3 separate regions of the Homo sapiens genome follow, and all the other regions are linked to region 1. Evidence: fine-mapped expression QTL. A gene starts in region 1. Each other region holds a variant in brackets. All regions are shown on one strand. Distances are from middle to middle.

What was found. PIP is the estimated chance that this variant, and not a neighbour inherited with it, causes the effect.
Region 2: its variant is fine-mapped to the expression of SLC35D1 in whole blood (TOPMed, PIP above 0.99).
Region 3: its variant is fine-mapped to the expression of SLC35D1 in whole blood (INTERVAL, PIP 0.99).

What each region holds. Positions count from the first base shown.
Region 1 is chr1:67,050,688-67,058,876 of GRCh38, forward strand. SLC35D1 (solute carrier family 35 member D1) reads right to left here and starts at 3,461. Exons shown (of 12, transcript NM_015139.3): 1 at 3,124-3,461; 2 at 2,269-2,302; 3 at 2,084-2,170; 4 at 1,325-1,392. The coding sequence starts at 3,326. RefSeq lists silencers at 2,876-3,085, 3,376-3,565.
Region 2 is chr1:67,119,406-67,127,594 of GRCh38, forward strand. It overlaps C1orf141 (chromosome 1 open reading frame 141), which reads right to left. Exons shown (of 8, transcript NM_001276351.2): 3 at 7,761-7,852; 4 at 6,347-6,504. The coding sequence starts at 7,835. Among named protein-coding and RNA genes, the nearest start is that of C1orf141, 11 kb to the right of the region's middle. The variant T/C (reference allele first, on the strand shown) is at 4,082.
Region 3 is chr1:67,015,015-67,023,203 of GRCh38, forward strand. SLC35D1 (solute carrier family 35 member D1) reads right to left here. Exons shown (of 12, transcript NM_015139.3): 9 at 6,521-6,588; 10 at 5,355-5,433. Among named protein-coding and RNA genes, the nearest start is that of SLC35D1, 35 kb to the right of the region's middle. RefSeq lists an enhancer at 5,530-6,328. The variant A/C (reference allele first, on the strand shown) is at 4,756.

The DNA.
Region 1 (8,189 bases):
CTTTTAAAAAACTACTAGAAGTGAGAAACATTAAATTAACTACAAAACTTTATTCTAATTATGCAAAACCCTAAGCTGTAAATATGTCAGTTTTTAATAGAAAAAGGCTTCCTTCTCATTTTTTCACTAGTCTGACCTCCCTTCCCACCCCCTAGACCACCCAAAAACCATCTATGAAAATCTTACCCCATGAAATGCCTTGACTGTCCTTTTGTGGATGTAATTTTGTCTTCATCTAAATTCCCAGAGCATTTTGCTTGTACTAATCAAACATACAGCCTCTTGCAATATAGTTATTTCTGAATATATCTTATCTCACTCCAAAGTGCCTTATACTTAGCTGGCAATCAAAGATAGGTGTGAATGAATGGTTGGATGAGATGGATGAAAAAAAGCAAACTCTACACAAGCAGCACTTTGCAGAAGGCCTGCATTTCTTTCCTGGTGGGTAATGAAATGGAAAAAAATGTCCCACCCATGATAAATCTGACTTCCTTGGAACCCTCTTCAGAGATATCATCTCGGTCATTCTGTCAGGTTTCTCGGGTTTTAAAGGAAGAAATGAAAAACACCTTGTCCTTGATGCTCAAAAATCTCTCCATTCTATTTTACAATGCCAGGGTTTTAGCTTGTGTGGTAGTGGTGAAGCCATGGGGTTTCTGTTAAATGTTTTCTCTATTTGTGTCATTTTAATACCACACACAACCGATATGTACACTACAATAAGAGCAGAAGCCAGAAACCGGGAGGTTAGAGGGAAAGACAGTGTTACCATGGAGAGGAGAGCTATTGCTTCTTTCTGAAAATAAGTATGTTGCCTCTACAGTTACATGCCATGTGTAAGATATTAATAATATTTTTATCAGGGTTCTAGCTGATGTTACCTTACTTCACATTAAAAGAAAAACTGCAAAAGTTCTTGTGCCTACCCTCTAATTTTGCTGTGTGGAAGTTGCCTAAAATATTTATGAACTATACTAAAGAACTGAAATCCCAGAAGCCTAGTATATATCTTCACTATTGTGGCTCTAGAAAAATAATAAAAATTTCCTATCATAGCATTTTATAACATTTTAAGACTTCTAACATCAAAATGAGGGGTAAAAAAACAAAAACAAAAAACTCCTCTTTCTCTTCAAAGAAAAGAGCATAAACTATAAACTAAAACCTTTGGCACCACTTTCATTATTTAGTAGTAATAGAAGCTTTCTGGTCCTTTCATTTTTTTCCAGAATCAATAACAATGTGTTAAATATTTGACATTCAAGTACAATTTTAAGAATACATTATATTAACCTCACTAGTAAAATAAAGTTATCCATACTTCAGTTTCTTTGTGCTGAACAGTCCCGTGATTTGGTTCCCAAAATATAGTAGAGGTAGTGGAAACGTCTAGAAAATTTAAAAAGGGATAACAAAACTCAATAATAAAGATAGCTAAAACAAGGTCCTTTCAAACAGAAACAATTTTGTTTATATGATCAAAATTTTTTCCACTTAAAACGTAAAATTAGTTATCATACACAATTTTGACACCCAAACACCCAAACAAAACTTATGCTTGGATAAACAACATTACTATAGCAGAAAGAAAGGGAGGAAGGCAGGGAGAAAAGACAGAAATATGAATATGATCAATGTGAGACAGAAACATCATTTGCTGTAAAATATGATAATGTATTAGAGCCCATGGCTCTATTGTCAGCAGAAAAAGTAAAGGCATTTCATCTTCGTTTGGAGTCAAGCAGAGGCAGACAGTATAAAATAAGCCCAAAGAATAATGAATGCAGGATACACTGGCTAGATTAGATGGATAGAGAAACTGCAAAACTATTGTACTCTCAACAAGTGTGCATTAATTAAAAACAGAAGAATATTCCTAGGTTATTTTTTCTCTTAAGTTTAAAGAGACTGTAGGCCTTCTTTGACACATATTACTACTTTTATTCTTTACATTCATTATAACCACTCTAGACTGGGCAATTTTGAGGCTGCAATTTTTAAATACGCAAGGCACTGATAAAATATGTTAATACATACTGACTTCATTTCACAAAATAAAGTATCGCTTTTCTTCTTTTACCTTTCGAGGTACATTTCTGTCAAGGTCAGGAAACTTGACTACTCTGAGCGCCTTTCCCACCCAGAGAACTGCCACTGTGGCCACCATCTGTAAACAAGAGAACACAGATTCACTGTTCTACACATAAAGACACACACAGAAGTTCTAACAACATAAACCACGTAATGGTGAGGATTCCAACTAACCTGGCCAAGTCCAACACATAGTGAGGAGGGAAATCTACAAAAAGGGCAAAGAAAAAAACAAGATCAGAACAAACCTAACTTAGCTCCGTGAATTCAATTTGCACATCGGCAACGTTAATAAGGCATTCCGATACAAGCCACATCAACGTCCGCCCCTAAATCAAACAAAAATCTTGGGAGAAAACTCTCTGCCTGTTGGTTGTCAGTCCACCCCGCTGATGTAGCCTCGGGCGGCCGCTTGTCCCATCTTGTCCGAGTCTACAGTTTCAGTCCGCTGCCTGCAAAGGATTTCTCAAGGCAGTGCAGATACAGATCTCTGCAACGATTTCACACACCTTAAAAAAAAAAACAACCAACTTCTGCCTCTGGGTCCCAGTGTTAGCAAGGGAATAATTGTCTGCTGGGTTGAGGATGCGTACGTCCCCAGAGGCTGTCAGCGGGTGCAGGGGACACTGAAGCCCCGGCCCCCTGTCCAGGCTGCGGAGGAGGGAGGCTTCCCTCGCTCTCCTCCCTGATCGACAGGCATAACGGCTCAAAAGTCACCAAGCAAATCACTTTGCTCCATCTCTCTGAAGGGCAGGGTTTTCGGGGCGGTGCGCCCAGGGCATGGCAGGCGAGCCCCAAATGTGCCGGGCCGGCCGGAGCTCCGCGCAGGGAGCGGACCCCTGCCACAGGCCCGCTCGCCAGGCCGGCTCCGCTGCCCGGGCCGCGCGCGTCAGCCGCCCGCCCTCCCCAGCTCCCGCCCAACTTTGTTCGGCTTTAACTTTGGCAGTCAAAGTCCAGGGAGCCGGCGCCGCGCCGCCGCCGCCGCCCGCTCCTCCTCCGCGGCCTGGGCCGCCGCCGCCTCGGCCCTACCTGTAATTGGTGAGCACGCTCTTATTCACCACCACGATCAGGAAGGAGCTCACGCCGTAAAAGCCGGCGGCCAGCAGCTTCAGAAACACGGTCAGCGTTTCGGCCGACGCCATCCCCAGCTCCTCCTCATCTCGGAGTGTGGAGGATTTCGCGGGGGCTTCTCCTTTAACCCGAGCATGCTGACGTCTATGAACTTCCGCCATGGCTGCCGCAGCAGCGGTGGCCTGGCGGCGGGGCCTAGCGGCTCGGGGGCCTGCAGCGGCAGCTCCCAGGGGACTCCAGGAGTTGGGGACCGCAGACTAGGCCAGCTGCGCGCTCGCCGCCTCGACTCCCCGCTTGGCCGCCGCCTGTCCCCGCCCAGGGGCAGGGACGCCGGGGTTCACACCCCTGGAGACTTTGCTCGGGCATTGTGCAACGCGGGGTCAGAGAGTAGGGCCGCGCCGGGCTTAGCCTGGGCAGGGGTTGGAGAGAGCCTGGAGAAGGGGCAGTGGCGACCCCCCTGCCCGAGGCGGATAAGGAGAAGCCAGGGGAACTACATCGAGACACCAGAGCGCCGGGCGACAAACCACAGACTCCGGGTGACAGTCGCCCTGCGCCTGCGCACGAGCACGCGCTGGGTCTCTCCGCGGGGCGCGTACCTGGGGCGTGGGGAGTCTGGTGGCAGAGGGGCTGGAAGGCCGTATTCTCCGGATAACTGCCGCAACTAAGTGCAGACCCTCCTCCCCTCTGTTACAGGTGGCCGGCCAAGTAGTTACAGTACACTGCGTCTAGACTAATTCTGAATGCTCTTTTAGTCTCTCTTGCAGGGGGTAAAAACCCTTCAAAAGTATCAGATGTGGATCAACAGTAAACACTCAACGAAAATTTCATTCCGCAATGCCTCAGGCTTCTTACATTTTCTGAACCCAGAAAACACCAAACAATACTTTTCAGATTGAGAAGTTTCGTTTGTTTGTTTTAAGAAAAATGTTGACATATCCCAAAAAGTAGCAAGATAAGCAGCTTGGGGATTGGGGAAAGCACAAGGTGTTTGGAGCCTAAAAGACTTGATTTCCAATTGTAGGATTCCTAGAAATGACGACCCCCCCCCCCCCCACCAACACACTCACTCCTTATTGTGTGTCTTGGACCAATTAGATGACCTCCCTGAACCTGATCTCTGTGGATGTGTAGCTAGCAAAGAGCTAGTTTTCGGTAAATGGTAGTCATTATTGTATAACAGAAGCAAATCATTATGATCGGTTTAAGCAAAGAAATTACGTATTGAACTTTAATAGATTAGGAAAGAAGAACTTTGAATTATTTTTCTAAGTGCTTGGTCTGTATCTTTTTAAATTTCTTTTTTTTTTTTTTCTTATTTTTATATTTTGGTAAACCAGGTATAGTGGTTCACACCTGTAATACCAGCACTTTGGGAGCAGGTGGAATGCCTGAGCCCGGGAGTTTGAGACCATGCTGGGCAACAAAGTGAGACCCTCTCTCTACAAGAAAATAAAAAAATTAGCCAGATGTGGTGGCGCACGCCTGTGGTCCCAGCTACTCAGGAGGCTGAGGTGGGAGGATGGCTTGAGCCCAGGAGGTCAAGGCTGCAATGAGCTATGATCATACTACTGCACTCCAGCCTGGGCAACAGCACAAGACCATCTTAAAGAAAGAAATAAATTGTGGCAAAATATACAAAGTATAAAATTTATCATTTTAACCCTTTTTGAGTATGCAATTGCATGGCATTAACTGCATTCACATCGTTTTGCAGCCATCATCACTAATCCATCTTTAGAACTTTTTCACCATCCCAAAGTGAAACTCTTTCCCCTTTAAACAATCACTCCCTGTTTCCCTACTTCCTTCCCTCTCTGCTGTTAACCAGTGTTCTACTTTCTGTCTCTGTGAATTTGACTACTCTAGGTACCTCATATAAGTGGAATCATGTAGTATTTGTCCTTTCGTGATGAACTTACTTCATTAACGTAATGTCTTCAAGGTTCAGCCACGTTGTAGCATATGTTAGAATGTCCTCCCTTTTTAAGGCTGAATAATATTAAATTATATGTGTATAATTGGTTTATATCTTTTGAGTTACTTTGAGAACACCTATGTTCTTCAAGTGTTTCTTAAAAAACTGGTACACAGGATGAGGTTCTTAACATAGCCTACAAGGTCCTAGATAATGTGGTTCCTACCCACATCTCCAGAGGCACTATTCACGTTTCCCTCCCCTAAGGTGCAGATAAATCAACAATGTGGGTTCCGGCTTCTGTGTCTTTACTCCCATTATTCCCTCCATCTGGGCTGCTTTTTCTCTTCCTCCTCTCACCCAGCTCCTGAAAAACTCTTACATTTCCTTCCGTATTTTGGCAGAACATTACCTCTTCTCTGGGCAGCCTTCACACTGCCCCCCACTTCCCTCTACATAATTGATCTCTCTCCTTTGTGCCTCTCCTACCGCATCTTTATATACCCCCTTTATAGAGTGTCCATCTGCTGCTGCTGCTATAACAAAATACCTGAGACTGGATAACATATAAAAAATAGAAATTTATTTTCTCACACTTCTGGAGGCTGAGAAGTCCAAGATCAAGGTGCCACCTTAACCACTGCATCCTCTGAAGGGGAAGAACACCATGTCCTCACATGGCAGAAGGGACAGAAGGTCAGAAAGGGACAAACACTGTGTGAAACCTCTCTCATAAGGCATGAATCCTACTCACAAAGGCAGAGCCCTCATGACTTAGTCACCTCCTAAAGGGCCTGCCTCTTAATAATATCACATTGGTGATTAAGTTTCAACATATGAATTTTGGAGGACACATACAGACCGTAGCAAAGGGGCTCTGCATTACATGTTTACATATCACTCTCTTCCACTAGACAGTTGCTTCTTGAGGACAGTGGCAGGCAAGGGTGCCTAACACAGTTTAGATATTTTAGTTGATTGAATCAATGGAAACAAGGAAAATGATTAAATTTCTTCCTTGACTGCTAGCTTCAAAAGGAAAAATAACTAAAACATTGTATTTTAAGAAACATCCTTGCAGAAAAAATATTATAGAAGTAACAATGACCCTCATAATAAAAAGCAAATATATACATATATACACATTTTTACACATTTTAAAAAACATACCTGGAATAGAACCAGAGAAGAACACTAATCCTCAAGCCACACACTGCTGCTGACACTTAGTAGTTTTGTGACCTTGGGCAAATTACTAGACATCACTGTGCTTCAATTTCCTCACCTGTAAAATGGGGATAACAATAGTACCCACCTCATAGAGTTACAATGAGAATTAAATGAGTTAATGAATGTAAAGTGCTTAGAACATAATATGAGTGTTTATTACAATTACTGTTATCACTAGTATTATTAGGCAGTCTTCCTCTTTTCACTTACTATTCCTTGATGGTCTTTCTGTGGCAACGCTTAAACTTAACCTCATTCTTTTCAAAGGCTTCAGAGTATTCCATTAGTTGGATGCATCATCATGTAACCCTATAGACATTTAAGTTATTGCCATTTTTCAGTGTACAAACAATGCTTGTCCATTCAACTTTGTGCAAGTATAAATTTCTAGAAGTAGAATTGCTTAGTTAAGGCTACTTTTTAATAAAAAAATTAATAGAATTGAGGAAATTCCAAATTAACAACCTCCAAAGAGTTTATACTCATTTTTTATTCCTGCTAACACGGTATGAAAATGAAACCCTCTTTTATAAAGTCAAGAGGGCAGCAATGGAGAACAATGGAAGAGGTGAGATAATATTTCAAGTTCTACCCTGTGGAAGTATGAAATGCCAGGTACAAATTTTCAAAATCATAAGTTATGATTACAGAAAATAAAAATAAGAGTGCTGATCCAGGCAACTACTGTTTTTCTCAGCATGATTACTTTATTAATTAACAAATATTTAAGACCTATCACAGGCCATGAACTGCATTGGATTTTCTCAGCTCCAGTAATGATTTGGTTGCTGTGGACCCCCAGTAAAATGCTATAGAGTTTAATGGAGTCAAGCATTCTCATTAGGTACCCACAAAGATAAGATAGGTGCCATCTCTAGTAGGATTTTTATCTCTTTCCCATGTTATAGGTACTTAGACTTTGGGGTAAATTTTGGTATTTTAGGTCCTCAGATCTGTTTCCTCACTTCAGTAATATTAATCACAGAATTATATATGGAGTATTTACACATCATTGGGTGAAACTGAATAAATATTGAAATATATCTTAAAAAGTTGTTCAAGATAAGAAAGACTGAATTAAATGTTCTCACTTAGGTACAAGTGTACTCTATTTGGAAAGGTCAACTTTGTGGGTTGATAAATTTTACATCTTACTGGGTAGAATTACTAGCAAAAACTCTTCTTAGTATTAAATGATGTCTTTTTATCAAAACATTGCCGTTAGGTATCCTGTTTTTCATTGAGGGAATATTGATTCTGTACACAGTTTTTTAAAACATAGCTTATATTACTTCTTTTCTCCACGCTTCTCCCTTTTCCTTGGCCCACTTGCTCCTCTCATAGTGGAATGTATATAGGCCTCTTTTGTTATCCACCTGCATTCACCAGTTTCCTATTTCACTGCCAACCTAGATCATACCCAGTGACCTGCTGTGCTGCACAGCTGGTTACTTTATAGTCAAGGAGCAAAGGTCATACATGTTTCCTATTTGAACAATACTTTAAAAATTCTGAGAATCAGCATGGAGCTTCTCTTCTCTGCAGTGCCTTGTACTTTTCTACATTGGACTGCAAAGAATGAACTTATTGTCCACTGATGATGAGCCTCACAATGTGCTTCTCTTGTAATTCATTATCTCATTTCACCCTAACCACTGTGAGAAGCAGGTATGGTGAAACAACATATAAACAGGAAAACAAGGGCTGAGAGGGAGTATTAGACATACACTGCATCCCACAGCTCTAAGTGACTGTGTACAGATTCGGTCCTAGGTCTGTTTAGCATTTATTCTGTGTTCCTCCACTGGACACTCCTGCCTCCTTTGGGGCAGATGGACAAGACCTACTTTTACAAGACGTTCTGGCAATGTCAATGCTT
Region 2 (8,189 bases), 69 kb after region 1:
GCAAAGTGTTGAGGAGTGATTTGGTTCCTACTGATGTTTATAGTAAAATGCAAGAGGAAAGAAATGAATTGAAGATGAAATTATTAAGGAAAAAGGAACCAGAAGTTAAAGATTTGAAAAATTTTCAGCCTGCTCATATTACAAAAGAATGAAAAAGTATGCTTGGGAGAGAACACTAAAGGTATAGTAAGTTGACTGTTTGATAGGTAGGTCAGTGTGGATGTGTAACAAGGACCAAATCAGCCATCTCAACAGAAGCCAGGAATAGAGATGGGATTATACCAGCAGAAACACTGCCAGCTGGGACTAAGGGAAACAGAGAAAGTGGGAAAAAATGAAAGAAAACTGTTGAACTTCTTAGATTCTACAGGACCAGATCATAGAGCTACTGTATGCAGCTGTTCAGCTATAACTGTGCACTATTTTTCAAGACAAGGGAAGAAGGACCTCAAAAGCAATTCAAAGATAATCAGGGATGCCACTCCCACAACAGGCCCAGAGGGCATGTGCTCAGGGGACAGGGCTGCCTCCACTTCTATTTCAAAGGGTAAGACCCCTGCCCAGTGGAGCCATGGGTGTGCAACTCCCGCTAGGCAGAGCTTCAGAGGTGAGACCCCTGCCTGAGTGGGTTCTGGAGGCAGGACCACTAGTCTAGTGAATCTAGAGGGCAGAGCTTTGAACCAAAGAGGATTATTCTCAAACCTTAGGATCTCATAGAGTTTGCTTGCATGGTTTTAGAATTATTCAGGACCTGTCATTTCTCCCTTCTTTTTTATCTCTCCCTTTTGGAATGAGAATGTCTATCCTACACCTATCCCATCAACGTAGCTTGGAAACAAACAACTTGTTTGCCTTCACAGGTTCACAACTGGAGAGAAATTTTGTCTCAGGGTACTCTTACCTCAAGTTTCATCCATATCTGATTTAGATGATATTTAGTTGAGAGTTTGGACTTTAGAGTTGATGCTGAACCAGTTAAGAATTTTGGATCTATTGGGATGGGATGAATGTATTTTCCATGTAAGAAAGATGTAAATTTGGGGGGGACAGGGGTGGAATTCTACAGACTGAATATTTGCATCCCCCCCTTCAAATTCATATATTGAAGTCTAAATGCCCAAAGTTATGGTTTTGGGAGGTGCAGCCTTTAAGAGGTAATTAGGTCATGAGGGTGTAGCCTCATGATTGGGATTAGTGCCCTTATAAGACATGAGAGAGGTGCTATCTGTCTCTTTCTCTCTGCCATGTGAAGATACAAGAAGAAGACAGCTGTCTGCAAAGCAGGAAGAGTGTCCTCACCAGACACTGATCTTGGACTTCCTAGCCTTTAGAACTATGACAAATAAATTTATTTAAACCACCCAGGGTATGGTATTCTTTATAGCAGCTTGAACTGACTAATATAGGGGGTCAAATGGATACTGAGGTAGTAACTGTGTTTGGGTCAATTTGCTGATACTCTACCCAGATTGCTGACTGAAAGCCTGGGGATCCTTCGCAGAAGAAATTGTGGAGTATATTGGAGAGTATAGGAGTTGATGGAGAATTTGAAGAGTTGTAGCTGCTCTCCTTGGTTGGAGAATGTGTTCCTCTGAGGATCTCTCATATGTGCTCTTTATGACTAAAGTTGGCCAGAAAATGATTGATGACTAAGGGAAAAGTTGGAAACAGTGTCCAGAAAGAAATAAGAACTTTTGTCTTCTTCTCTCTCCCTCCTCCTTTACTCCCATACAGGAGGATGTGCTGGTAAAATTTTAATAACCTTGCCTTTGGGTGTAGTTTTAATGTGGAATTTTACTCATTCATCGATGGTGTAAGCTACTTTTTTGCTGAACCAAATAATAGTTTTTGAATATTTCCTTATTTTTCATGCTATTCAAAGCATAATGGCTATAGGTAAGGCATACTTTTTTTGGTAAGACTTACTTTTAAGTTTAATCTTCATCATTAACATTTTCTTCCTCACTTTCTTAAATCTAGACAGACAACGACTCAAGCCTTGATTTGTAGTGTTTGCCAATTGCTGTGGTGTAAATACTCCCGTTGTCAATTTCTACCAATGTGATATAATTAAATGTGAAATTTGGAAGAGATGTGTAGTAGCATACTGTTATACAAATTTCTACCATATGAATATAGTAGATGTAAATAACTTCAAAACCATGAATAATAGTAAAATATACAATAATTAGGAAGTGATGAGTTTTGAGTATTATCTTTATTTTTGGTATGCCATTGAATTTTAAGTTTACATAATTTAATTTTTAATGGTGAGTGTTTAATAAACATCTCACAAAATTGCTGAAAATTCAACAAGCAGCTCTAATGAATTGGTAGGAGCTGGCTTTAGCACACCACTGTACCCATATAAGAGAAAAAAGAAATTAGAAGAAGAGTGAGGAGGAGTTGTGCTAGAAGAAGGCCATATCAACCTCCTACTCTCAGTTGAGGGAACAGGAGTAATCAAATTGCTGACCATACCCCTCTCCATTTCAGCTCCCTGTGTCATTAGACTGGCTTGTATAGGGACGGGAAAGCCATGACGAGGGGTGAGATCAAAATACTAAGTTGGACAGACTTTTAATAACCAAAGTGATCAGGATGAAATTAGAGAAATATAAAACTGCTTTATTACTATTACTATTTTTGAGATGGAGTTTCACTCTTGGTGCCCAGGCTGGAGTGCAATGGTGCAATCTCAGCTCACTGCAACCTCCACCTCCAGGGTTTAAGCTATTCTCCTGCCTCAGCCTCCCGAGTAGCAGGGATTACAGGAGCCCGCCACCATGCCTGGCTAACTTTTGTATTTTTAGTAGAGATGGGGTTTCACCATGTTGGCCAGGCTGGTCTTGAACTCCTGACCTCAGGTGATCAGGCCATCTCGGCCTTCCAAAGTGCTGGGATTACAGGTGTGAGCCACCATGGCTGGGCTGCTTTATGTTTTTATGTCCCTGAATCAAGAATAAGCAATGAAATAGTTAAAACTAACATTTTATTTTATATTTCTTTAAAAATCTATATTTGCTTTCTATTCTTGTGGTCAGACTTAAGGATCAAATCTACCTTTGCAGAAAAGAACTGAGAACTGTTCCACCTTTGTCTGTGTTCCAAAACTATTTAAATAGTTCTTTGAAACTACAAAGAAACTCACCTTTGACACAGCTTCAAAGTGGTACTTTTGTAAAAGAATTCTTTGACTGCTTCCTCAAATTTTTCTACAGTTATTGATCTATTTATGTTTTCTTTTTTGTTGAGATTTTTCCCTTTCATATTTTCCCAAAAGTTCATCCATTATTACACCCATGTGTCAAAGCAATGTAGTTACACAAAGCATTCATTATAATTATTTTAATGTCTTCCATATCCATGGCTATAGTTTCTTCTTGATTACCAATATTGTGCCTTATGTTGCCATTGTTTTCTCTTCAATTTTGCAAACTGTGGTCATTTTAACATTCTTTTGGGAGGTGTTAAACATACTAAGTTTCCCAAGTACTCTTAAAAGTTCAGTGTGCTAGGCTGGATGCAGTGGCTCACTCCTGTAATTCCAGCACTTTGTCAGGCCTCGGGTGGATCACCCGAGGTCAGGAGTTCGAGACCAGCCTGGCCAACATGGTGAAACCTCATCTCTACTAAAAATACAAAACATTAGCCGGGTGTGGTGGCACATGCCTGTAGTCCCAGCTACTCGGGAGGCTGAGGCAGAAGAATCGCTTGAACCCGGGAGAGGGAGGTTGCAGTGAGCCGAGATCATACCACTGCACTCCAGCCTGGGCGACAACAGAGCAAGACTCTATCTCAAAAAAAAAAAATAAATAAAAATAAAAGTTCAGTGCGCTTATGAGAGGAAAGCCAAAGTTTGGTGAACATACTGGGAGATTGACAGCTTTTCTTTTTTTTAGTCCTCCAACAAATGCATACTTAACATGGTTTATAAGCAATGTATTGAATTAAAAACTAAGTATTATACATTTGATTTATAAGATTAGTTATACACAAATCCTGTCCTCAACTGATCTTGACTTTCTTTTCTAGTTTATTTGTCTCTTGTCATATTTTTTGAAGTTTCCATTTTATTATA[T/C]AAAATTTTTTTATTTGGCTGAGGTATAACTAAATTATAAATTCTGCTATCTAGAAGCAGATAGAATTGTAGGATAGATAAAATGGATATAAAGTTTCCTTCTAGGCTGACAGGGACCTGGATAAGGGTGTTCTATAACTCACTGAAGACTGAGATACAATTACTTTTACCACAGTTTCTAAGGAGGATCCAAGTATCAGTTATTCTACTCCTAAGCTTCCCTAGAAGTAGGTGTTAAAAACCACTAAGAGTCTGAGATTTGACCCTACTTACGAGCTAACAAGTTTGCCTGCCACGGTTTCATCAATGGTGGCAGCTTTCTTCCAGATATCTCTACCTGAATGTTTAGATGCCTATGGGCATCTAAAACTTAACATCTATGAAATAAATCCCAGCCCTTCTCACTTTGATCCTCTTATCCACCCCAATCTCCTTTTCTTCACTTGGTCTCTGCCTAAGTACAAAGCACTACAATGCACCTAGTTACCAAGACCCAAAGCTTGCAGGCATCCTATTGAATGGGGTACAGTAGTGATGAAGAACACAGGCTCTGAAATCAGACTTCTAAGGTTCAAATCCAGCCTTTCAATTTGTTAGCTGTATGACCTTGTGCAAATTGTTTAACCTCACCCAGACTTAGGTTTTTCATCTGTAAAACTGCACTAAAACATTGGGCTACAAAAGTTTGTTTCACTCTGAGCAATAGTACAAAACTGCTACATGAAGAAAGCTGCTTCGAGACAATCAGGTGGTAGGCCTTAATCAGAATACTTACATGAAAATGTAAGTAAGTAGGAGTGGTCTTAGATGCAAATGTCATAGTTTGTTTGTTTGTTTGTTTTTTGAGATGGAGTCTTGCTCTGTTGCCCAGGCTGGAGTGCAGTGGCATGATCTCAGCTCACAGCAACCTCTGCCTCCCGAGTTCAAGCAATTCTCATGCCTCAGCCTCCCAAGTAGCTGGGACTACAGGCATGCACCACCAAGCCCAGATAATTTTTTAAAAATATATTTTAGTAGAGACAGGGTTTCACCATGTTGCTCAGGCTGGTCTCAAACTCCTGACCTCAGGCAATTCGCCCACCTCAGCCTCCCAATGTGTTAGGATTACAGGCGTGAGCCACCATGCCCGGCCCACAAATGTCATAGTGCTCACGTGGGCTGCCTAGTGCATAGTGTCATAGCTGCTGCCTGTCTAAACTATGTGTGAAAATCAAGGTCACATAGCTAACAAGTAGCAAGGCTGGATTTAAACCTTAGCAGTCTGATTTCAGAGCCTGTGCTCTCTTCATCATTACTATACCCTATTCAATAGGATGACTGTGAGCTTTTGGGCTTGGCAACTGGGTGCACAGTAGTGCTTTGTACTTAGGCACAGAACAAGTGAGGAAAACTTGTTACCCAGAATAAATGAGATAAGGACAGTATCCACACTACTACCAATGTCCAATTAATTTGAAGTTCTACTGATTCCACATCTTTGTACTTCTTTTTTCTGAACTCTCCTTTACAATTCTGATGTGCTTGGAAAAATTTTATAGCATTATGCAAGTACTAAATGCCAGTGAAAGACCAAGTATGACATATTTAGGCTGTCCCTTTTAAGTGCACAGAGAAATTGCCTTACTTAGTTTTCTAGGCAGACTTTTTCTTAAGTATATCAGTTAAAGTTTGCAATAAATCCTGACATTAATTTGGGGCAATATAATTGAGCTCAAGAAAAGCCTTCCTTTAAAAATTCACAATTGTAATTACCATCTACACTAGTAAAATATTATACATAATAAATATTTTATAAACTAGAAATATTCAGAAAGCTAATCTAGTATATTTTAACTCATAACCCTTATAACATATGCCATAAAACTTTCATTTAATATACATTGCATAATCTAAGACAGATATAAAGTAATGTTTTAAAACTCTGAACTGGACGAGGTGAGGTGGCTCATGCCTGTAATCCCAGTACTTTGGGAAGCCTAGGTGGGTGGATCTCTTGAGGCCAGAAGTTCAAGACCAGCCTGGGCAGCATGGGAAAACCCCATCTCTATAAAAAATACAAAAAATTAGCTGGGCATGGTGGTGCATGCCTGTAGTCCCAGCTACTCTGGAGGCCAAGGTGGGAGAATCACCTAAACCTGGGAAGTTGAGGCTGCAGTGAGCCATGTTTGCACCACTGCACTCTACCCTAGGCAATGAGTGAGTCCTTGTTTCACAAACAAACAAACAAATTCTGAACTGAAAATTTAAGGTGGTTATGATAGTTACATTTTTGATTTTGTAATGCTGCATGACTTGTCTTCTTTGATCTTTGATATTGCCTTAGACGCGGATGTAGCAAGAGCTTCTTCAAATTCCAACTGAAAATCAAATGTCAGGGGTATAGCCATAGTTGTTTTTCTTCCTTCACTCTGAAGCCTGTTTATCTGCAGCAATGCCAAAGTGAAAAAAAAAAAAAAAAAAAGAGTACTTTTTATATGGGGAAAATCTTAGGTGGAAAGAAAAAAAATCTCACTTTACACACACACACACACAGAATTTAGGTGGCAGGCAATAATGGAAAAATAGTACAGACTGAAAATTGGGGGTCTAGTGCACCAACTGTTTTTATGCCTTTGCTGTGTGACCTGAGTTGTTCTTTTCCCATCTGTAAAATGTGGGGGTAGGACTTGAGGATTATTAAGGCTCCCTCCTAATTCTAAAGTACAGAATTTAAGGAAAGATCTACATATTTAGATACATAGAGTTCTTGGAACCATAGTAGGCATGTCCCTCCAGCCTGCTCCTCTTCCTGTAGCCACACGCACGATGAATCACACCAATCTTCCTCTAGTCGTGAGAGCCAGAAATAGAGTGAAGAAAGTAATCAAAAGAGGACTTTGTTAAAATCCTTATACAAATGGATTGAAGAAGAAAAAGGATCTAGCTAAAAGGTGAGTAAAGGAGCCGAAAGTTTTCTCTAAAAAATTATCTCAGAGCATAGCTCAAAAGAATAAAGAGATGAAAACCCTGAAAGCAAAATCAAAGGATATGGGGGACTTCTGCTTCTGCCAATAGATGGAGCACTATGGGAATTAGTCTCCTGCTCTCAACAACTAGGAGCTCAGGCAAAATATATGAAAACAACTGCCCCCAGCTATTAGAAAACAGAGTAGGACAGATCGCTGAAAGAAGGGAAATAACTGAGGTCTACCCTCTAATAGCCCAGCTTACTTCCTGGAGGTGGTTTCAGGGCTGAGGTGCAGGGAGGAGAAACCCATTGGATTGGGGGAACTCAAACCAAATCTTGCGGCTTTGATCTCGCTAAAGTTAAGAGAAAGATCGCACCAGCAATCACACTCTCACGCATTTACCTCAGAGAAATGGAAACTCATGTTCATACAAACCTGGATGCAAATGTCCATAGCAGCTTTATTTTATTTTTTAAGCAGCTTTATTTTTACTAGTAAAATCGTCAAAACAATCCAAAAGCCCTTCATGGGATGATTCGTTGAAACTTTGTACATCAGCAATAAAATTTTTATATTTGTATACATTACATTTTCAACTAGTATAATTAGTTGCTTTTTACAAATTAGTTTATATCATATTAATGTATCATTAGCTAAAAAGTAAAATTATTCACATTTGAAATGTTAACCTGTTAATGATTAAACTGAATTGTAGCTTATACGTCACAAACCTTTGTTCTTCTGGCCAAGATTATCTCTGCTTGCTTATCAAGGACATCCAACTTCTCTAGGATTTTTTCTGCCATTGTCAATCACTAAATTCCTATTTTAAAATAAGGAGGAAGAAGAACAAATCAATTCAAATTTAAACATAAAACTAGGCATAAGTTTTCAAAAGACTCACTTTTACATTACTGTTTTAGGTAAATAATAGAATTGTTTAAATCATACAGTAAATCATAGAATTGTAAATGTACCCAAGTTTTTTCAATTGAAGGCTATATGATCAGAACTCCCAGATATGTATAGGCCCCATGAATTTTTAAATTTATGATAAAGGTGAGGGGGAGAAAGTTCACGATTACCATGAGAACCATATGTGACTTATACTTGAAGCAAGACCATGTGGCTTGACTTATATCTATTTTCTTTTTAAATTT
Region 3 (8,189 bases), 36 kb before region 1:
GTTACTAAGAGATACTATCATAATTAATATATATAATTAAAAGTACTAGATATTAAAATAAACAATTCCATACGCAAAGTATATTCCAAAAGGAAAATGTGTTTTTAGTAAAAAAGGTTATAAAACACATAAAAATGTGTTTTTGTAAAAAAAAAAAAAAAAAAAAAAGATTTTGCCTAGTATAAACGTTTAAAAAGTTTTTAATTAAAAAAACAAAAATAAAAAATTTTAAAAATGTTTAAATTTAAGAGGCTATTTAAAAACGTATAAAAATCTTGTGGTCAAACTAATTAAAATTAAATAGATTTATTTACAAGGCTTTATTAAAAATTAACTTTAATGTTAATAATACACTAATACAAAAATAAAATCGAATTTTCTCTGTTTTTTTTTGAGTCAGGATCTCACTCTGTTGCCCAGGCTGGAGTGCAGTGGCGTGATCTCAGCTCACTGCAACCTCTCCCTCCTGGGTTCAAGCAATTCTTCTGCCTCAGCCTCCCAAGCAGCTGGAACTACAGGTGCATGCCACCATGCTCAGCCAATTTTTGTATTTTTGGTAGAAACAGGTTTCACTGTGTTGGCCAGGTTGGTCTAAAACTCCTGGCCTCAAATGATCCCCCTGCCTTGGCCTCCCAAAGTGCTGGGATTACAGACGTGAGCCACCAAGCCCAGGCAGTTTTCTCTTTCAAACAAAATTTTTATGTACTATTGATAAAAAATAATTTTTAAAATTTTATTTACCTTCTAAATAAATTACAAAAAAGAGGGGGTAGAGGGAAAAACAGATTCAGTATGACTCATGGTATCTTTATTATGTCTTATAAGTCTCTACCAAGAGTAAAAGGTTTTGCTTTTTAAAATCTTTAAATTATCACGTTGACTAATGATATCTTTTAGTGGCCTGCAATCCTGTTTTAAACCTTTGTTATCTGACATATTTCCCCAAATCAAAATTTCAAATTCAGTTTTTTTGACCTCAAACTAACTTTTTAGATAATAGGGCCCCTAGAAGTCTAAGAGAAACATATTAGCCTTATTTAGTATGTTAAAATCAAATGGAAATCATTAAAAAAATGGTGCTTAACTTTCTCTGCATTATATTTATATAAATGTGTTATTAATATATGTTCTAAACCTGTATGAGATTCCTAAAGATTTGAAATGTCTTCAGATATATTATCAGTAATAATTATGATTATGTTAAATTGGTACATGTCAATGAAATAATCAAATTTCCTTGTCAATTGTTAACTATTCTAAGACTTTTGTTTTCCATTGACAATCATTGTTTTACTTTGATTCTTCTCGAAATGTAGTTTACAATCGGTAGAGTCCAAAATTTGCTTCTTCTTCGGAGAAATTAATAAAAAAAGACCCTGATAAGTAGTTGTAAATATAGGTTTCTGATAACTTTATTGATCCGACCATTAGACTAGGTAAAAACTTTCAGTATTCTAGTTAAAAAACTGATGTATTCATGAGGATTGCTAACCTAACATCCAACAGTATAAGAATTACAAGGAATTACATTAGTAAAAGACTAATTTTTATGACTTCAAAAAAAATGCTGTGTTTTCCAGTCAAAAAACTTTTTTTTCTTCTAAACTATTTATAATTTACAACAATTGGGTAAAATATACTTTGTGAACAAATTTAAAACATCTTTCTAACTAATTTCTCCAAATTTAAAAACTATTTATAAATATTCTTAACTTATCAGAATATAATTATTTAGATAAGTTCAATACACATCTGTTTTCTTTGTAATAGGACACAGAGACACTGGTTATTTTACCAATACTTTGACTAAAATAACATATTTGCAGATATGACCAGACTACTTGAAGAAATTAAAGTTGACTTTATAAAGCCAATAAAAAGACCCTTGTCTACACAGTTCCTTTATAAGTTTCCTGACCTGTGATTAAAAAATGTAACTTTCTGACAGACCAAGGGACCTCGAGTTATTTTATGATATCAAAAGGAGAAAGATTCACCCAATTTGTTACAGGTATTAGAGTCTGGTGGCAAATCCTTGGCTTAGCCTCCTGGCCTTGAGGCTTTTAAAAGTCTAATAATCTAAGATTCCTTATTAAAAAGTTCCAATAAAACTAATCTAAGAAGAGCCTATATGGCCAATCGCTATTCTTATTACACTTTATACAAATAAGCAGGCCAAGTACAATAAGACTAAAATTTATTTTACAAATAAATTAATCCTACTATGATTTATCTTTGGTAAAAATGGGAGACTAGAAGAAAAAAATCATGTTTCAAATAAAACTATAGCACATCTGTTTAAATTAGATTCTAGCCTCATTAATTGTTATTGTTGTTATTACTTCTCTAATATTTAGACTAAAACCTGAATTCTTTCCTGGCTACAAGTTTCCAAACTAACATTTTCAAATTTTTCTTCCATTTTTGACTTTAAGCCACTGAAAGTTGAAACTGTGCTTTTCTTAAAGCCCTACAAACTGAAACTAGACAACGTAAACTTCAGGAAAAATCAGAAGTTAAATACAAACAGCCTTCATGCCTACTGATGTATAGAATACTCAGAAAGTTCACTTCAATGCTGATTTGAACTATAATCCAGTAAAATCTGTCAGATTGCCACTGCAATCTGAAGATACCTCAAGGACTCTAAAAAACTCTATACACTACTCCAGACATTAACCTTGGTTTTTTCTTCTGTTTCCACAAAAACATCTCTTATTAAAGATCTGTTTCCCTTCATCATACACAGAGGCCTAGTGTACCTACAATGCCACCTTCTAAAATGGGACACAAATGTTTAATCCATTCTTAGGACTATGACTAAAAAAGATATGGGGCAATACATTTAAATTTACTCTTTTCTGCTTATCTAGATTTGTTTTTTCACTTCTTTGTCTATCTCTGATGACCTCTGGCCCAAATGGCTTTTAATATATAAAACTTTATGAAGTTTTAAAGTGAGGACTGAAGGAAATTAAAATATTTTACCCCAAAATATATTTATCTGACTTATTTCTCACAGGCCTCTAGATTAGGCCTATGAGACACAAAGTAAATTGATACATTGAAAAAGGCCAAAAAGAAACTTCAAAATTATTTTTCTAATAAAACGCCCTTTGAGAGAACCTTCAAAATTATGTCAGCCTCTTCTAGGCCTAAGGATGAAGACAGGAGGTTGCCTTAGAAAGGATTTTCCTATTATTTGAAGGGAAAAAATAAAATTAAGTATCATGTAACAACAAGGCTAGCAGGCAACTTAGGAAAGTGTATAACAGGACGTCATTTGAATACAGGGATCCAGGGAGGTGGATTAATTTATGTAAGTTGCCCAAGGAACTTCAGAAATGAAGGTGACAGAGAATCCAACCCATGCTGCTCAAAATCAGAAGTTGGAAAACCTGTAGGTATATATTAGGGTATCCTAAGCAAGGCTGGCTATCAAGAAAAGACACCAACGTCTTCAAAAAAGAAATTATCAAGAAGCACAGAAGAGTCATGATAGCTCAAAACTAAGACTGCAATTCTCAAACTTTAGTATACCCGACAATTGCCTGGAAACCCTGTTAAACATAAACATTTCTAAGCTTTACTCTAGAGATTCTGACTGAGTCTATCTGGGTAGGCCTTGGAATTTCTACTTTCAATGAGTTATCCTAAGTGATTTTCCCACCATGCTGAAGAGAAAAAGGAATGCTGACCGAAGGATTTGCAGGGGATTCTCAAGCACAGAAGGAAGCTTAAAGCCTCTTGTAGGAGGAATGGCTGAGCTAAATGGGTTATAACTGGGATGCTAATGACAGAAGCTGCACTGTATCCTGTGAGACTTCGACCCTGCAAGGGTATCAGCAGATTCCCATCTGTCTGCATGTGCAAGCCATCCTTCAACAGTGATACCCTGCACCAGTATGAAGCAAGAACAGTAGTGAACTAATCAGACAATTCAGTTTTTGCCTCCCTGTGGAGTTTGTAAGTAAAATTAATCACCCTGGAATGAGTAAATCCATGGAGTTCTTGGACTACTGTGAGGAGAAACATATATCAAAAGGAAAGTATAAACCTTATATAAGCAAGAATGACTTTATTTGTATCCCATGTTGATAATGATAAAGTACACTAAGAAATCCCAGGCAAATAGGTTTACTTATTAAAATTAAACATAGGCTTTCCGGCATCATCCGTCTCCTTAACTAAAAACATGGCCTATTTCTCACATTCTCGCTACTCTTATGCTGAAGACGAAAGCCATCCACTTTGCCCTTGAGGCATTCACTTTACAAAACCAAAACATACCTAGAGCTAATTTGGGGGAGGGGCCTAAAACTGTCTCAGCCAGCCCAATCCCTGGCATATAGATTGTCTCTAGCTTTCTAAAGGAATTCACACAAATTGACCTGTTACAGCTTAATTTGGAATTCTATTCACAGCAAACAGTTCAATTTCATGATTTGAAACCACAGACTTTCTGGATTTTAACCCAATCTAGTCTCTAAACTGAGATCAGGTGGGCACCACTCTATTGAGACTACAAAGATAAACAGCAGAGCAGTAAAAACTTGACCTCTGAAATCTCTTCCCTCACTACTGAGTAATGGGGCATCAGAAAGGAAGTCACAAGGGTAATGGCCCTCTTTTCCCCAAACGTTAAGGACCTACCTCTCTGGGTTTTGCCTTTTTAAGGAAGCAGGCCCACTTGGCTAATTCATTTGGAATTCAGACAAGCTGTGGCCTCTTGAATCATAAAGCACTAGAATCACA[A/C]AGTCAGATGAAAGAGGCCTCAGGCTTCAAGCCACCAACTTTAGCTCAATATTCAAGTCAACTTGGCTCTCCTGGCTGAAGACAAATTAGTCTGCCTCAAATAAAATGGATCAGGAGGAAATGAGATCATTGGAAATGTCAGACACAGCTTTCAAAAGTGAGCCATTTAAGGTTTGGCTCAGGCATAGGAAAACCCCCCCAATTAGCTTCTGGCCAGCATACTTTCCCTACAAAACAGCCAGACCTCAGTGAGGCAGAGAACACAGCAGTTCTCATTAGGGGTTAAAGGGACAGGCTTATCACTACCAAGCTATTAATCTGCCCTGTCAGAAATAGACCTAATTCTATTCCTTCCTCTATTCAGATAATACATTTTCCTTTTCCCATGCTCTTCAGAGCTAAGCTGCCTCCAAGTAGAGACTATGCCCTCCCTGCATTCTTAAAGAATATTTCAGAAACTATCACCACAATTTGTCAAACTAAGACAGTATGTGAGGAAATAACGATTTGGGTCTTAAGGCCATCAACAGACTCTTATCTTAAAGGAACAATTTTCAAATAATGCAGGTACCAAAAGCTAACAGTATTTTTCTACTTACCTTAATACAGCCAACTATTGTAGTTGTAAGAGCAGAATTATACTGCGTGCAGAGTACTGTGGCGTACATTAAGATAAACCTAGAATGAAGAAAGAGGTATAAAATCCAGTTTCTCACTTTATACTAATCTCTAGCCAAGATAAACAATCAGTGTTGGCCAAGCCAGCACATTCTAGTCACTGACCAGCTATGAATTTTCCCCACCTCACTGCTTCTTATACTGCAGCTTCAGAATTTTTAAAATTTCACTAAATAGAAACACATTCATCTCCTTACCAAGAGTTTTTCTTTGCTGCCCTCATCAAAACCCTGAACCATCTCTTACAATCATGACTATTTTTATAGATCATGCTTCCTACTAATACACCTAAGCCAGCCAGACAGAAAGCTCAGAGCTCACAGACCCTAAAATGCAGTTGTGCACCTTCCATAAGGACAACATGTCCTCTGGGCCAGACGAAGACAAGAGAGATCCTTAAATATTGAAGAAAACCAAATTAAAACTACTTTAAGAGGGGATACAGGTTCACTTAACAACTAAGTGGCAGCAGTTGGAACTCTCTGATTTACACTGAGGCTTCTCAGCTTAAGTACCAAGGCATCAGGTCAACTTTATTTTGAAGCACCTGCTCACTGTGTGCCAGATCCAGTCACAAATAGCAACTAAACTGACTGGCTGAGGAAAAAAAACACATTAGAGAAATATGGACATGAGGATAAGAGGCACGTTTGCAGGTATCCTCTTAACCTCTACATATTCTCTCCTATGAGGAAGAAAACATGGTAAAGAGGGGTCAAACTGCCCCAAATTCAAATGCTGCCACTGCCACCTACAAAGTGCGCAAATTTAGACAATTTACTAAAGTTCTATCTGTCAAATGGTCAGTATAGAGATAAAACTATATAATGCATGTTGAAATATAATGGTGCTTACTAAACAGCAGGTTATCAGGTAAATTTTTTCTTTTCTTCATCCTTCTAAGGTATCAATTCAGTAGCCCTAAGAGCACATTCCCAAGAGCTATGAAACCACCTGAATCTGGAGGCTTAATTATCCTAGGCTGACACACTCAGGAGACCTAAAGATATTGAGAAAAGAGGCATGCAAATTTCTCTAACCTATTTCTTTAGGAAAACTATCTGCTAACAAGGTAACAAAGGCTTACCCCATCACACAGGAGAGGGTGAACTGCAGAAGAAAGAGGGTGTCAGCCCAGCCTTCAAACTCCACAGCCTGCAACACACAAGAAAGCATTAAATTTTAGACCAGGCCTTCAAAATCAGCTATCCCGTTTTAATGTAAATCCTTCTACGAGTCTGCCTCCAACACAGACACAGACACAGACACAGACACAGACACACACACACACACACACACACACACACACACAGGTATATGTTTCCCTGAATTACTCCAAGGATAGAGAGTGATGTTCAAAGATTTCATGTATACAGAGTTGAACTAGTAAGTAGTTTCATAAGATTTTCTCCCATCCAAAATGTAACGTGGGGATTTTATACTTCTCACTATTGGTGCAAAGAAACTGGTATTTCCTTGAAGGCACAAGCCACATTTGGCTAATCTCAGTTCTTTCAGATGGCTATTAATGTGCTAGTACTAAAGGCTTTCTCAAACATTAAAACATGTTTCCTTTCTGTAACATGTGAAAGCTTAAATACAGCCTTAGTTATACAAATTCAGCTGAGGTCTATTCAAGGAGAATTACTGTTTTAAAACGGTTCATTCTAAAAACAAGGTATTTTGTGTTGTTGTTGTTGTCTGTGTTAAGCCAAAAGGAAAGGAATAAAGAGAAATGAAAGGGTACACTGATCATCTCATCTCTTGTCCAAGAGGAATGGATTCTCAAGTACCTAGTTGTTTTTGCAATAGGAGTTTGATAAGCAAATGTGACAAACATTCCACCTTTTTATCTCTGCTAACCTGTCCAGCTTCAACTTTTGCTACTTCCGCATAAATCTGATGGCACCAGGGCTCCAACAATACCAGGCTCCCTGTGGCTTATAAAACATACCATACACTTTCTTACTTGCATGCCTTTGCCTGGAATGTCCTTCCCCTCAACATTCGTCTGACTCCTGTTCAGCCATCAAATTAAAACTCAAGGCTCCCTTGTGGGGCCCTTCCTGATCAAGTACTCCTTCCTTTGTGCCTCAGTACTCCTCTCTAGAGCTCTTGTCTCTTCGAACTGTAAATCTTTCTATACCATGTCTACAGAATGAACTCCCTGAAGGGAGGACCCACATCACATTTATCTAATCATATTCCTAACAGTGCTTGACAGACAGTTTGTTTATAGTTCTTTGTTGAGGTAGAATACATGAAAAATAAATTAATTTTAAGTGTTCAATTCAATGAGTAGTCACAAATGTATAATCATGTAACCACCATTACAATCACGATAAAGAAATCAACTCCTTCCAAAGTTCCCTCCTCCCCATTGAGTCAATCTCCCCTCCATTTCTAGCCCCTGGCAACCTCTGATCTACTTTCTGTTACTATAACTTCGCTGTTCAACAATTTCCTACAAGTGGAATTGTATAGCATGTACTCTAGTGTCTTCCTTCTCTTTCACTTGGCATTATGCTCCTAGGACTCATCCATCCTATGTATGTATCAGTAATTCATTCATTTTTATTGCCAATTAGTATTCTATCTTATGGGTATACCACAATTTGTTTATCCAAACACCAGGTAATTGACACTTATTTGGGTTATTTCCACAAGTTATTATGAACCTTTGAACCTTCCGTTACAAGTCTCCCAACTGACATGTTTTTATTTATCTTGGGTAAATAGCTAGAAAATGGGATTGC